Linked DNA regions of Homo sapiens. The protein of the gene in region 2 interacts with the protein of the main gene of each other region in a pairwise test. Each region holds a gene or a part of one and is shown on either strand. Other genes may lie near its edges. The genes, in order: SLC10A1 and COX20.

What was found.
Region 1: the proteins of COX20 (region 2) and SLC10A1 interact in binary tests that used the Homo sapiens proteins (3 or more experiments, as listed by UniProt).

What each region holds. Positions count from the first base shown.
Region 1 is NC_000014.9:69,790,437-69,794,261, forward strand, and holds part of SLC10A1 (hepatic sodium/bile acid cotransporter), read right to left. Parts: intron 1-3,825. UniProt on the Homo sapiens protein: As a major transporter of conjugated bile salts from plasma into the hepatocyte, it plays a key role in the enterohepatic circulation of bile salts necessary for the solubilization and absorption of dietary fat and fat-soluble vitamins.
Region 2 is NC_000001.11:244,838,333-244,842,107, reverse strand, and holds part of COX20 (cytochrome c oxidase assembly protein COX20, mitochondrial), read right to left. Parts: intron 165-3,775; coding exon 50-164; intron 1-49. UniProt on the Homo sapiens protein: Essential for the assembly of the mitochondrial respiratory chain complex IV (CIV), also known as cytochrome c oxidase.

The DNA.
Region 1 (3,825 bases), on a different chromosome or scaffold from region 2:
AATAAAATATTAGCAAATAAGTGTTTTAAAAAATACAATGAACAAGATGAGTAAGAATGATTTAACATTAGATAATCTATTAATACATATTACTATATTATTAAAGAAATGGTACAATTTTGTAGCTATAGAAAAGTCAACAAAATTTAATGTTCTTACATAATAAAAATTTAGTACACTAGCAACGGAATGAAAATTCCTTAACTTGAAAGGAAATCTATTAGAAAAAGTATATTAAACGTTAAACTTAATGGTAAATAGAGGGATTTTCTTTAACAAGAGGAATAAAGCAAAGATAGTCATTATTATTACCTGTTTTATAAATTATACTATATATAGGCCCTAGTAAGCACAGCAAAACAAGAAATAGAAAAAGTATAGGGATGGGAAAAGAAGAAATGAAACTTTCTTGTTTTGCCAATGATAGGATTGTCCACAGAAGAAATCTAAGTAATTTTCCATTATAACTGGTAAGTAAGAAAATGTATGAGGTTCTAAATACATTAGCATCAGTCAGTCAATCAATTGGGTCTGATATACTAGAAACAAATATATATATATTTTAAAAGACACCATTTATGATATTCACAAAACTAGAAAATACTTATACATCTAAAGGACATGTAAGATCTTTATGAAAGAAATTACAAACCTTTATAGAAAGGTATTAAAAAAGGCCTAAGTAAAAGAAAAGCTATATCATATTTATAGATGGGAAGATTCAATATTATAAAGATAGTCTCTCAATTTATATATAAATGTAATGCACATTTAATAAAACTTCCAGACTTATAATTTTTTTTGTAGACTTGAAAGGTGATACTGAAACTCAAGTGAAAGAGTAAAAGGCTAAGAATAGCTAACATGATTTTTTTTTTTTTTGAGACAGAGTCTCGCTCTGTCACCCAGGTTGGAGTGCAGTGGTGTGATCTTGGCTCACTGCAAGCTCTGCCTCCCGGGTTCACGCCATTCTCCTGCCTCAGCCTCTCAAGTAGCTGGGACTACAGGCGCCCGCCACCACGCCCAGCTAATTTTTTGTATTTTTAGGAGAGACGGGGTTTCACCGTGTTAGCCAGGATGGTTTCGATCTCCTGACCTCGTGATCGGCCAGCCTTGACCTCCCAAAGTGCTGGGATTACAGGCGTGAGCCACTGTGCCCGGCCCATGATTTTCAAGAACAAAGTAGGGGGACTTAACTTTCAGATAACAAAACTTATAAAATTGTAATTAAGAAAGTGTGGAACTGGTACAAGGGTAGCCACATAGACCCGTAGAAGAGAAGAGAGATCCAGACACAAGCCCTGCATTTATGAGAGAGATGTCATTACAAATACCTGGAGAAAAATTCACTCAACGTGGCTTGGAATCTTCTATTTGTATGGAAAAGATAAAATTAGTTCATGCCATACATAAAAATAAGTTCTACATTGATTGGAGCTCTCCATGTGAAAATCAAACATTTAAAACTTTTCAAAGAAAATACAGGGTAATATCTTTGTAACTTTGTAGACAGTAAATTTTTTTTTTTTTTTTGAGACAGGGTGTTGCTCTGTCGCCCAGGCTGGAGTGCAGTGGCATGATTTTGGCTCACTGCAACCTCTGCCTCCTGGGTTCAAGTGATTCTCATGCCTCAGCCTCCTGAGTAGCTGGGATTACAGGTGCACATCACCATGCCCAGCTAATTTTTTTGTATTTTTTAGTAGAGACGGGGTTTTGCCATGTTGGACAGGCTTGTAGATAGTAAAAGATTTCTTAAAGAAACCCCTAAAAAACATAAACCACAAAGGAAAAATATTGGCAAATTTGACTAAATTAACATAAGCAATCTATCAGACATTATTATCAAAGTGTAAAGACCAGCTCCAAACTGTGAATAGACTGTTGCAACATATATAAAACAATAACTTTAGAAATTAATTTTCAAAACCCACCCAAACCACAATCCCATAGAAAAACAGGCAAAGGACCCAATGTTTCCAGAAGAGGACACATGAATGGCCAACGCACACGTGGAAATGTGGTAGGCCTCCCATGAAATCAAATTTAAAACTACTGCGATCTGCTTCACTGTTTTCATTTGGAAAAAATTAAAAAGTCTGACAATTCCAAATATAGATGAAGGCACAGAGAAACAGGGATCTTCAGACACTGCTAGGGAACGTGTGAAGTGAACAATGACCTTGGAGACCTCTTAAAGATGTGTGACTCCCACGACCCAGCAGTCCTGCTTCAATTGCATATGCCCTCATGTGGGCAGAGGGACACACACAAGTCTGTTCACAGAAGCGAGACGTAAAATCCACATGAATCTGACAACAGGAGAATGGATAAATGCAAGCAAACTGCACAGCAGTTCAGATACATGAGGTAGCTATTTTCTTTACATGCCTATTTCTCAAAAAAAAAAAAAAAAAGCAAGCTGTTAGGTGATGTGGACAGTATAATACTGTTCGTACAAAATTAAAAGACGTAAATCCCGCAGTCTATCTTGTTTATGAATATATACGTATATAATAGTTGAAAAGGGTCGGTGGAAATGCTGAACACCAAATTCCCAGGGATGCTCCCTTTGGCAAGTGGTGGAGGGTAATGAGATTGGGAATAGGAATACAGGGGGTTTCAATGCTACTGTTGATCTTCTCTTAGGGAAAAGCCAAACACAACTTGTGTGTTTGTTCTGGTGACCTAGAGCAGAGGAATCATGCTTACTTTGGCTTGTGTGTCAGGAGTTTTGGAGTTTGGACTTGGTGTGCCTTGTCAGCTTGGGTATGCAGGAGCCATGTTCCCTGATCCCCAGGTACTTCCTCCACTTGCACAGGTCCTGGGGTCAGGTCAGGGACATCCATCTCCTAGCCTGCTGGCATCCGTGACTGTTGTGATCCTTGGTTTACCCCAAGGGACAGGGACGGGCAAGGACTTTTTCAGACTCTAGATTCCTGAGATTGTAGGCCTGGTTGCCTTTCAGGGGGAAAGGGGCACATTTGTTTTTTTTATTTTTCCCTCCTGCTTAAGTTCCAAGAGCACAGCATAGACCTTGCTTTTGGACATCTGTGTACCCCATTTAAGGGACTCGTTCGAGTGTCCGTCAATGCACAGATTGGAGGCAGAAGCTGAGGGAGCTGTGAGGGGCCTCAACACAGTCTCTATGAAGTGGAAAACTTCTGGGACCCCAGTGGCTTCCATCTTGTCCTGGTTGAGCTTCCTACATCATGGCTGGGAGACCTGTGGAAGTGCTTGGGTTGTGTCCAAGCCCATTGTCCCCATGGCCATTGGCTCTGGGCTCTGCTGTGAGTCCGATGGTGGCAGGGGGAGCAGATGAACTTGGGGCAGCAAGGATGGTCAAAAGAGGCCAGTTCCTGCTGGCATAGCACTCTCTTCTCTGTGCCTGACAAGCCATACTCACTTCAACTGTGAGGGCGTTTTCTCTTGCCTGTTTGTCACCTACATTTTTTGAAACTTGTCTAGTGGCCTTCCTTGAGGAGGGAGCTGCCGTCCCTGGCTGCATTGAGGGGTCTGCTTGGTGGCCTGGCCTCCTGGGATGGCAGGCTGTCCCCAGACTGACTCCACCTATGAGGCAGAGTGAGTGGAGGGAGACACAGTTTCCCACAAACTCTGGGAAACCTCTGGCAAGTCTCTGACCTCAGCCTCTTCATGTGTAAAATGGGATCTGTGTCTTACAATTCCTTCCAGTTCTAAATGGGATGTAGAGTATTGTGCTTATCTCAAACTGGGGCCTTTGGGCTACAGCTGGCCCTTTGACATGTATTGTTTGGTTTGCACATTTAAAAAAATGGAATGAGTTGCTGATTTCACATAAAATGGATA
Region 2 (3,775 bases):
AGAAATGCTTTTTTTAGTACATAGAGAAATAAAAAATACAGATACTCACTAGTGAACAAAAAATGTCCAAAGCCAGCCACAACAGATCCTAATGAACCATACAATATTGAATGCCGGGCGCAGGGAGTATTTTCAACATCTAAAAATCCTAGGAGCTTAAGGGACTAGAATGAAAAAAAAGAACCTAGATTGAGTAAGAAAGTATTTCATTTTGGGGTGCTTTGGCAAAAATGACAATACACCATTTCTTTTCTTGTAGTTGAGGGTTTAAACTAGAGTATGTGCCACGTGACAACCTAAATCAGCTTGCGTTGTCTTTGTCCACCTTTGGTATGCAGTCTGAATCTTTAAATCCGAAAACCTTACAAATTGGACCGGAAAACCCTTAAGCAGTAGGGTAACTTGGAGCTGTATCTTAATTTGCTAATCAACTGACTTGGAAATAGGATAATTCATTTTATGAGCTCTTTAAATGAGTTTATTTGGGAATATGCCTATCATTGGAATTGAAAGCAGCATAGCTTGCTTCAGTAACTCCAATAATTTGGGAAGCAGAAATGGAAAAAGTAATTTGAGTCATGTTTGCTTATGTAGTGCCGTTTAAAATTCCCCTAGTAATTACCTTTCATATTTTATTAACTAGGTTAACATCAACTGTGGTTGTAAGAGTAAATGTTTCACCTTAAGATAAACATGGGCAATATATTAAACTCTAGTCTGTTTTCTTGCCTGTGAAGTGAGGCTGCACTTGATTATATTTGATTCTTTGTTCGTAATACATGGGAACGACAGCTAAGTGTGGTGAAAAACGCGGGGATCCAAAGAGCTGGATTTTTATCTCAGATCTGCCGCTAACTTTTGTATCCTATAGGCTACTTTTATTTCTATGGTCTCAATCTATAACATGAATGGGTTGGGTTAAATGACTGAAGTTCCTTCAAGTGCTAAAATTCTTTTTCTACAGTCTTCATTGGATTTATGTATTTCTTATTCCTAATATGTTTAACTGGGATGTCTGTCACTCTAGGGCGGCAAGACAGACATTTAAAAGTAACAGTCACACTGCTGAACTGGCATTTCTGTTAACACAAAAGTTTAGAAAACTCACGGTAACTGTTACTTGATTTAAGTGTATATAAAATTTTCAGTAAGGCTGCTTTTAAAAGGAACCACTGTCCATTTAAAGGTTTCATAGTTATCTTCAATGGGTTAGTATTGTTTGGGGCAGGACATTAAACTAGAAGGGATTCTATAGGATGAGGTGATACCTAGAAGGTAATATATTGTAAGGCAAAAGAGATTAGAAGAAATGGGGAAAGGATAGTAAAAGGCAAGTCAGATTAAAGGTTGAAACATGAAGATATTCTCAATTGTATTTCTGCCTATGTTTGCTTTTTTGGCTCAAGCATCTGTTGGAAGAGACAAAATGTGACTTGGTTCATAATAAAGCAAGAATTATTTACTCTCGGATCATTCTATTCCATTTTTTCCCTCTGTCTGGCCCCGTTCCCACCCGCATGCCTAACATAGGATTGCTTCAAAGCTTTGCAGTACAGTTCTTCACATTACCAAGAGGTTGGGGGATTTCATTTAGCAAGACGACTTTTTCCTATCAGCTTGAGAGCCCAGGGGACATATGATCATGTGGGTAGTGTTATGCAGGTGAGGAATGCTGGACTTAGCGCTCCAGTCCAGGACTACCTCTAAACTAGACTATTTCCCCAAGGATGGGATGCTGGGGCCAGAGGATTAGTACCAGTTTGATCTAGTCTTAGGTGCAAAGATGCAAGTGTGAGACCAGCTTGTACCACAGGATAGAATTAAGTATTTTCTAGTCCCACTCTCAGATTCTGATTTACAATCACTGGAATCTATGTTTAGAAAACTCTAGGTGGTTTTTTCTGATGACTGTCATATTGGGGAAACACTGCTTTAGGAAATTTTATTTTTTTAAATAAAAGTAAATTTGCAAACAATAGGAAAATAGCTCAGCTGACTTTAAAGGCAAATATCTAAATAGAAGCTACACATCTTATTTAAAATAGTGCCTTCTGAAACAAACCCAATCCCCAACAAAACTCTGGTCTAAAATAATAGTGGTTGATCTCATAATTAAGAGCTGCTGGTGGGGGAGGTAGGTATTAGTGCCAGGCTCTCTACATGTTTTTTAATTCTCTAGCCTTTGTGTGAGATTACCTCTGAAACAGGCTCGGGGACTTAAGAGGCTAATAATAAGTGTTGGCAGGAGTGGAGGCAGAAGTCAGTTTCACCACAAAGCCTATGACATTTTCATTGTGCCAAACCACATCATTAAGAAGTAACCAAGGCTGGAGGGTTTGGTGGGGAGCTTTCCAGTTGTCACATATCTAAGGAGTAATAAGATTCAGTACATAAATCCCTGCAATTTCTATCAAAACAGGAAGAATATGCAACGACTTGAGCCTGTATACCTTTACAGTTAAGTACACTGAACTGTAAAATGCTCAGAAGTGGAGATGAATAAAGGATCCCGGGCATAACTCCCTTTGAAGTATTCTATTTATATACGGAAATATTCTGTTCATAATATACATGCCTTTAACATTTCTCTTCTATTCCTTAAGTAGCCTGCATACTTAAGATTTAACTCTTTGCCACTAACAAACGGGAACCCTTAAAAATAAATTAAGGAAATGTCAGACATTTTTTAAGCTTAGATTTAGAAAAGCAGCTTTACCAGCTCACCCTGATCAATCTAAGGAAAGCTCAAGAGATTTCCAAGCCAGAATGTCAATAATGTATAGAAATAGATCTGATCAAATTAGAGACAGTTGATTTTCCACCACTAAATCTGCTTCAGTGCCCGTATTTCTTTCCTCTGGTTGCAAAGGATGAATTGGCCCTATTCCTATCTAATGCTAGTCTTCCCACTTGGGCACTTGATTCCCCTCTTGCATACTCAAGGGCTTGGCTTCTATAGCTACCCCTTTCATTTGCATCGTTAGTTTTTTCACTTGCAATAATTTACTATCAGCCCTCTTGGCCAGGTGCAGTGGCTCACCCGTCATCCCAGCACTTTGGGAGGCCAAAGTGGGTGGATCACTTGAGGTCGGAAGTTCGAGACCAGCCTGGCCAACATGGCAAAACCCTGTCTCTACTAAAAGTACAAAAATTAGCCAGGAATGGTAGCACATGCCTGTAATCCCAGCTACTCGGGAGGCTGAGGCAGAATCGCTTGAGCCCAGGAGGCGGAGGTTGCAGTGAGCCAAGATGGCACCACTGCACTCCAGCCTGGGCAACAGAGCAAGAAGACTCCATCTCAAAAAAAAAACCCAAAAATCCTCTATACACCCCTCTCCTCTCATCAGCCACCTAAACCACCATCCTTTTGGGGCAAAACTTCTGAGTGTAGGTGTGCTTTTCTACTTAAAACCTCCCATTCTCCCTTTAACTCACTTGAGTGAGGCATCTATCCACTGAACTTCACTTGACACCAGTCAAGACCTCTAAAAGACATCCACTGCAGTCTAAATCCGCATCTCAGCATATGTGGCACAAATTATCATTTGTTTTTGAAACTTTTTTACTTTTACTTGGCTTCAAATACGTCTCCTGGTTTTCTATTTCATTGACATTTTTGTTGCTGTTCCCTCCTCTACAGACCTGATTCTGAAGTGCCACTCTTAACTCCTTTGGAATCTAGTCTCTTCCTAGGTATCCCAAGGCTTTCAATTAAATGCCATTATATGATGACTCCAGATTTCTAAATCAAACCCTAATCTCTCCCAAGCTTCAG